2 separate regions of the Homo sapiens genome follow, and region 2 is linked to region 1. Evidence: fine-mapped expression QTL. Tissue or cell type: whole blood. Region 1 holds a variant in brackets; the other region holds the start of a gene. All regions are shown on one strand. Distances are between the middles of the regions.

Region 1 (4,339 bases):
ATGAACTGCCAGATGCTTTGGGAAGAAAATTACCAGAAAAAAATTTGTTGTTAAGTCTTCCACATCTAATTGAAACATCAGTTCCAGTGAGTATTTGGAGAAGCACCAATCCAACAGCTTAACATAAATCAAGAACTAAAATGACTCAAGTATGACATTTTTCTTCCTCAAGCAAAAATACACTGAAACAGTTTCCACTTCCAGTCAAGACGGAGTAATAGGGACCAGATTTACTGTCCTACCTTAAAGTACCAGAAAGCTGAACAAAACATACAAAGTTTCAGACACTCAACAATAGTTATAAGAAAAGGAAGGCAAAGGAGGTGACTCCAACAACTGCCCCAGCTTACTGCCGAGTTTCCAGACTATGGCACAGGGAGGGGATGCCCAAACAGCTCGGGAAGTCGCCCTGAGCAGCTGAGATGGGAGTGAGAATTTAGGGAGGCCACACTGGCTGAATTCACAGCAGGAGTACCTGAGAAGAGAGTGCTGCAGACCAGCAGGGGCTCCCTCAAATTTTCAGCTGGCACTGAACAGCACATGCGTATGAGAAAACTATCCAAATCCCGGAGAAAAAACATTGAAAAGGAATAGGTAAAAAAAAAAAAAAAATTAGCAGAGCTAATTACAGATTACTCCTATCTATAATCCCAGTGACTCCAGAAGCAGAGGGGAAGGACTGCTTGAGCCCACCAGGAGACCAGCCTGGGCAACACAGTGAGAAAAAAATAAAAATAAATAAATAAATAAAAATAAGTTCCATGTATTAAAAATTTTTTAAGGATTAGCCAGGCATGGTGGTATATGCATGTAGTCGCAGCTACTTGGGAAGCTGAGGTGGGAGGATTGCCTGAGCCTGGGAGGTTGAGGCTGTAGTGAGCTATGATCGCACCACTGTTCTCTGGCCTGGGTAACAGAGTGAGACCCCGTCTAAAAAAAGAAAAAAAATTCCCAAAGCTAACACAAAAAAACAGAATAGTTTTCACATAAGCCAGAGTGGGAAAACCTCAAAATACACAGGGTACATATAAATACTCAGGGTGAAATGCCTCAATAATGGGGCAAAATCAGTCCATTAATATATATATATTTTTTAAGAAAGGCAAACCATAGACTAAGAGAATATATTCCTATAGAGCATAAATCTGACAAAGGACTTGTACCTAGACAACACACACACACACACACACACACACACACACACACACAAACAGTAATAAAGATAACCCAATTAAAAAGCACACAAAATAAAGACTTCACCAAACTAGATATATAGATGTAAATAAGCACATGAAAAGATGCTCAGTATCACTAATCATTATGAAAATGCAAACTAAAACCACAACAAAGTACTACTACACACCCATTAGAATGGTTAAAATTAAAAAGACCTGCCATATGAAGCGTTGGCAGGATGTGGAACAACTGAAACTCTCATACATTGGTGGGAAAAGTTTGGCAGTTTCTTAAAAAGTGAAAAAGACGGCCGGGCACGGTGGCTCATGCCTGTAATCCCAGCACTTTGGGAGGCTGAGGTGGGTGGATTATCTGAGGTCAGGAGTTCGAGACCAGTCTGGCCAACATGATGAAACCCCATCTCTACTAAAAATACAAAAATTATCTGGGCGTGGTGGCACATGCCTGTAATCCCAGCTTCTTGGGAGGCTGAGCCAGGAGAACTGCTTGAGCCCACGAGACAGAGGCTGAAGTGAGCCAAGATCGTGCCGCTGCACTCTAGCCTGGCCAACAGAGTAAGACTCTGTCTCAAAAAAAAAAAAGTGAAAAATACACCTACTTAAGACTCAACCATTCCATCTAATTAGGTAGGTTCCCAAGAAATCAAATCATAACATACAAAGATCACAAATATTCAGAAGCATTATTTGCAATAGCCTTAAAACTGTGAATAACCAAATGTTCATCAAAAGGTGAACAAATGGTGGTGGATCTATGTAACAGAATACTACTTGGTCTTAAAAAGGAATGAACTATTAGATTCATCAGCAACACAGATGAATCTTACAATCACTATGTTGAGTGAAAGAAGCCCAACAAAAAAAAATTCACTATGATTCCATTATATAAAATCCTAGAAAATACAACTTAATGTATAGTGACAGAAAGTGTATCAGTGTTACCTGAAAATGGGGGTAGAAAGTGAATTAGAAAGGGTCACAAAGAAACTTGGATGTGATGGATATTTTATCTTGATTATGGTGATGGTTTCATGGGCGTATATATATATGTAAAAACTGACCAAATTGTACACTTTAAATATGTACAGTTTACATGAATTATACCTCAATC[G/A]AGTTATTAAAAAACACATCAAAACAATTACTAAGAGCTGATATGCTGAGATTAGTGAAAGAAAAGTCTTTGGTAGCCTACTTCAAAGACTCCTCATAAAGCCTTTACCAAACCCCAAAGAGTTCAAATTAATTCTCTCTCAGTAATTTTGTTTTTATCTGTTTTAGTGCTATTATAAGTGTTCTCTAAACTTTGAGTTTGGAGACAATTTCAATGCATTCATCTTTGTATATACCCTCTGTTGCCAGCCAAATAACCTGAACATAGTGGGTTATCAAAGATAACCTGGAAAACGCTGTATATTTATTTCAATAGATTTGTCCAAATATTCTTGAAAAATAACAATAGACTTTACTTGTCTATGTTCTAATTAAGGAGAGAGATGTTTAAGTGTAAACCTCAGAATACATGGAACTTATTTAAAATTAACACAAATAACTAAAGCAGAAATAGGAACAATCTTAATTTATTTATTTATTTATTTAGAGACAGGGTCTTGCTCTGTTGCCCAAGCTGGAGTACAGTGGCATGATCACGGCTCACCCTAGACTCGAGCTCCCTGGCTCAGGTGATCCTCCCACCTCAGCCTCGTGAGTAGCTGGGACTACAGGCACATGCCACCACGCCTGGCTAATTTTTTTTTTCTTTTGTAGAGGTAGGGATTACCCCTGTTGCCCACGCTGGTCTCAAACTCCTGGGCTCAAGCGATCCTCCTGCCTTGGCCTCCCAAAGTGCTGGGATTACAGGTCTGAGCCACCACGCCAGGCCAGGAAAATTTTTAAATCAGCATCTAGATGACAGGTAAAGTATACTGTTTTTCTCTGGCATAGATAACACCCTAACAGCTTATTTCCCAACACTGTCTAACTCAAACCATCAAATTAACTTGGGCATTTTACATTTTCATTCCCACATAGGCCTTTGCTCAATACTCTTCTTCCTTGATGTCTTCCTTATTCTTCTCTAGCCAAATTTTGCCTGGAATGATTGTCATGATGGTATTAATAACAATTAATAAAATACTTAATTGTGTAAAGCATAGTAGTAAAAGATAAATGTGTCTTTACATGTATTTGTGTGGTACACAGACATACATGAACACAGAACTCCACTCAACCTTCTCAACACCTTGAAACATGAGTATTACCTGAATTTTAAAGATGACAAAATTTTGGTTAGGAAACGCTGAACAAGGATTTGAGTTTTAATAATCCTATGCCAATGCAAATTCCATTACACTACAGTGTCAATGATTAAGGCTCACCTTACATCTTACATCCACACAGAAGCCATTTCCAACTACCATGAACTGCAGAGATGACTTACTTTCCCAAGCATCCTTTCGCTTTTGACTAAATTACTTTCTTAAGACATCTTCCTTACTAGACTGAGAGCCCCTTGGATGTAGCGGGTATAACTTCTTATCCATGTTTATGTATTCCCAATGCCTAGCATTGTGACCACACATTGTATGTGCTCAAAAACTGCTTGCTGAATTGAAATGAACTGAGCCTTTAGTTATGGAGCCATGAAATAATTTCCTAACCTCTTAGGTGGTAGAAGCATTTCTTCCATAGAATCTCTGACACAGTTATCCAGATTCAACTAGCATATTTCTAAAATAGGACACTTACTACTTCACAAAACAGCCTATTCTACTTATTTAACAGTTATTAAAAAGTTGTGGGGTTTTGTGTGTGTGAGGTTTCTTTTTTTAAAATAGTAACTGAAACAAGATTTGCCTTCCGGTTCTACTGTTGGGGTCAGCACAGAGTAGGTATACTCTCCAACTATGACAAGAATAGATATGACAACAGATTTAAGAGTGATTCTTACAAAACTGGATACAATTCAACAAGAATAGTTTTAAAAAAAAATGTACAAAGGTAAAATAATTGTGCAGAAATAATGAATAACTACTTAGTAGACCTACAATCTAGTGATAGTCAAAAAGTGTCTATTCAAAAGGCAGCTGGACATTTGAATATGAATTCAGAGTACAGCCAGGCTAGTTATATAAACTTTTACTTAT
Region 2 (4,000 bases), 32 kb after region 1:
TGGGTCCACAGCTAGCTGTATGAAAATGGGCAAATTATTTAATGTGTTCGTGTATCAATTTCCTCATCTTTGAGATAAGGGGAAAATACTATCAACTCCAGATTGTGGTTGTAAGGATTTTGTAAAATAAATGTGAGGCATACCTGGCATACAATAGGCATGAGGTGTATGCTATCATTATTATTTGTAACTATTACAACATTTTCTAAGAGAAAAAGAACCATTCTAGGAAAACAGAAGACTTGGATACTAGACCTTAGAGAAAGACAATTAAGAAGGCATACTCTTGGGCTCGGGTTCTTCACCTGTGAAATAACGGGGCCTTACTAGATGATTTCTCAAATTTCGAAAAAGTGTAATTAATGGAATAAATGAGTTGTTACTGCTTGTGACCACGGACCACAGCTACAACGATGGGAACGCTACAGTAAAAACATGAACAAAACAGAAGAAAAAAGGAGGACACAAAGGCTTGAGATCAGGTTCCTAAAACAGGGTGTAGGTCTAAAACTGTCATCTGAAAAAGATGATGAGTTTAAAAAAAAAAAAAAAGAAAGAAGGAAAAACTAGTATCGGAAGCAAAGCCCGAGGAAGAAAATTCTAGATTCTGTTTTTTAAAACGTGCGCCCAATTGTGAAACTAGACGCCAGGGAAGGGGGAAGGGATGGGTTGGCGCTCGAAGGGGCAATTCAGTTTGGGAACGGGAGCGCAAAAATTGCGGGAGACCTCGTCTGTCCCCTTTCCTGTTGGATCCCCAACTCTACTAAAGCAGGCAGCGAGTACAAGGTGCTGAATTTACACCTGATGAATTAATAAATGAACATACGTGTAAGGGGAAAAAGAGATAGCCAAGTCTGTAATATCCCTCGACAGGGAGGACGTAGCCCGAGGGATGATGGCTTGGGAAAAGAGGAAAGAGAACTGGGGGGCATCGGAAAAGCCCAGGGTCTGGGGGAGGCGGGAGAGCATCCAGGGCGGGTGGGAGGACCGGGACAGCACACGGGCCGCCCGGGGGGTCACCTGCGACGTCCGGCGGCGGCAAGCCAGGGTGGTAGTGCTGCCACAGCCCCTGCAGGAAGGCGGCGCTGCTATCCATGCAGCGGTGCTTGGAACTGGTGATGAGCCGCAGGCGGCCGTAGTTCTCACGGCTGAAAAGGGCCGGGAAGAGCGAGGCCAGACGCAGCGCCAGCTGTCGCATATCCTGCCGTCCCTTCTCTACTAGCTGCCCGTCCATCCAGTCCGCGTACCACAAAGGCCAGTCGGCCAGCGCTGCACCCAGGTCGCGGCTGCCGGTACTACTAGCCCCGCCATCCCTGGACCCGCGGGCCTGCAGCAACCCGTGCAGCTGCCTCAGCTTGCGGATCTGTTTGACCGTGGGGTAGCGGGTGCCGTGGCGAATGAGGGCGACCAGCTGCACCGGGGTGCAGGTCCCCTCCAGCAGCTCAGGGTCCCGCCACGGAGCCTCGGGGCCCGACAATAGCACGGGGTTGACATCCTCGTAGCGAGTCTTGGTGCCGAAATAGGGGCTGAGCGACGAGGCCACCGGGTCCCTCGGCTCTAGAAGAGAGCAGCGCGCAAGCGACGAGAGCAGCGCCGCAGCCAGGGCCGCGGCAGGCGCTACGGAGGTCCGGAGGAGGCAGCCGGGCGCGCGTAGCATCGTCGGGACGGTCAGTGGAGTGCGCCGAGCCAGCTGCAGATGCCCAGCTTCCGGCTCCGGAGGGCAGGGGGCGGGTCTGGAGGGCGCTTCCGGCCGGCGGCCCTCGGGATGCGCTTCGCTGTTCTCTAGGAGGTACCAACCTCTGGCGGTGGGTCTTGCGTCCCGGCGGAAAGCTCCGAGGAGTCCTGTAGACTTGTGGCTCGGGTGGAGCCGGCGGAAAACCCCGAGAAGCTTGAGACAGCCGTGGCTGAGGTGGAGCCGGCGTCGCTGCCCTGGAGCGTGGGCGAGTTTCCTCTTAGCCGGAGCTTCAGGGATTGACTCAAAGACTCCTCCGCTTTTTTAGTTGTTTTGGGTGTGAATACAGCCCGGACTAAACCTTAGTCGCCTAGACTAAACCTTAGCCTCCCAGGCTGCCAAAACAGCACAGCTTTTACAGATGACTCTTACATCACCATCCCTACTCTGTGATACTGTGTTTTTCAAAGTTTAGTGCCTGAACCATCAGCATGAAATCTGCCTGAGACGGTTGTTGAAAATTCACATCGCTGGGCCTTGCGGCAGGATGCCTCTTGAAGCCCAAGGTTTTTGTTTCGTTTTTTTCCATTTGAGTTTGAAAATAAACAGGATACAGTAAAGCAGAGAACTTGGAAAGGGGCTTACATTCTGCAGGAATTTAAGTCCTGAATCTTTGGTATAATCTTGACCTGGACTACCAGAGCTAACGCCGACATCAGTGAGACAGCACCCTAAAAGTTCTGTGCTTGTTGTTCCCGAAGGCTTAGCGAGTAGAGACATAGCAATCTAGAGAATTTGGGTGCATTGAGTCATGGCCCAACAGATTTACTCTATTATTAAGTATGAGCTAATCTGCTTTGCGAAGCAAACATGCTCTGTATTTACCACCACTCCAGATCCATACGTTCCTCCCATGTACTTACTTACATACTCAAATCAAAAGCTGGGTTTTTTAATAGGTTATTGCTCAGAATCTTTGACCCCAAAAATCATAAGTCTGAACAATACCTTGTTTTTTCCCACTTGAACTCCAGTTTATTTGCCAGCTGGGGAAATAATAAGTATTACAGAAGTCGTACGGTGATCCAGATTTAAGGAAATTGGGACCACGTTTTCATTAAGTTAGCTTTTGCTTCAAAGACACTATTACATTGCTCTTTATAAGCCCATCACCATCTTTACTCCTTTTCTCTTTAAGTGTCTCCTTGGTTTAGAGAGGTGTTCCTCTAAGTTTAGGCGTGCCTCTAAATGTTAACCAAGAAGAAACGGGGCCAGCCTATGAATGCTGAAAATTTGGAGACGTTCTGTGCAGGAAACCATCTTTAGGGCAACAGATGTTCTTTTCGATATGCTATTTTGTAGCATGTCAATGCCTGAATATTCATGGTCAGTGATATTTTTGTAGAACTTTGCTCAAATTAGCATTTAGTAAATATCCGCTCCTTCTTAAAATAGACATTCTAACCCGTATGCTCTATAGGCTGAGTCGCCTGATAATATTTCTAAGTGCATTCAGCGAGCATTTGTTCCAGGTTCATCTCACTGTATTTTGCCTAATACATATGCTTACTAATAACTTCTCACACCCAATCTTTTGAGTCCTAGGGGTTACCAAGTGTTCCCAAAGTCATTATTCACTTCTTCCTTATGAAGCAATCTTTAGAGACTCCACTTACAAAATGTATGGCACAGTACACATTTTTATACATGAAATTTGCCCCTAGTTTGATTTTATTTTCCTTATCTAATTCCTCATCAATTAATTTTATCCTGTTTTATACACTTAGGTATATCAGCTCCTAATTATTTTGATGTTATGCCAAGATAACAATGATAAAGTAAAAGTAAGCAATGCCTCCATGTTTTTGGCTAGGAAAAAGCCAAATATAAAGAAGACGAAGAGTGCTTAAGCTTTGGACCCAGACTCTAATTAGCTCTGCTGCTTATTAATTGAGTGACCCAAGTTCTCTGGGCCTTAGTTTTTTTTTTTTATCTGAAAATTGGTAATATTAGAACCTATATCATGGGATTATCATGACAGAGATGATGTATTTAAAATCCATATGATAGGCCGCTATAAATGATATTTTTATCATTACTAATGTTCAGTGTGATTATTCCTGTGCTAAGATGCCTAGCTTTCTAGCAATTACATGGATTACACTTACTCCCACTGAACATTAAAGTGAATGACTTTCACAGGCAACACATGCATCAAAGATCATTTCATAACTTTTCTAATAATAAAAATCCACTCATTTCACTTAAAATGGATATCTTGTTCTTAGAGCACTAAGCAGCCTTTGAAAAAATTTAAAAAGGTCACAG

What was found. PIP is the estimated chance that this variant, and not a neighbour inherited with it, causes the effect.
Region 2: MINPP1 starts here. The variant in region 1 is fine-mapped to the expression of MINPP1 in whole blood (INTERVAL, PIP 0.99).

Annotation. Positions count from the first base shown.
Region 1 is chr10:87,534,382-87,538,720 of GRCh38, reverse strand. All of the region lies in intron 4 of MINPP1 (multiple inositol-polyphosphate phosphatase 1), which reads right to left. Among named protein-coding and RNA genes, the nearest start is that of MINPP1, 32 kb to the right of the region's middle. RefSeq lists a silencer at 1,432-1,481. The variant G/A (reference allele first, on the strand shown) is at 2,308.
Region 2 is chr10:87,502,573-87,506,572 of GRCh38, reverse strand. It overlaps MINPP1 (multiple inositol-polyphosphate phosphatase 1), which reads right to left and starts at 1,680. Exons shown (of 5, transcript NM_004897.5): 1 at 1,021-1,680. The coding sequence starts at 1,657. It overlaps MIR4678 (microRNA 4678), which reads right to left and starts at 2,692; the gene lies at 2,619-2,692. It overlaps LOC112268064 (a long non-coding RNA gene), which reads left to right and starts at 1,739. Exons shown (of 2, transcript XR_002957094.2): 1 at 1,739-2,238. RefSeq lists enhancers at 1,401-1,460, 1,621-1,710.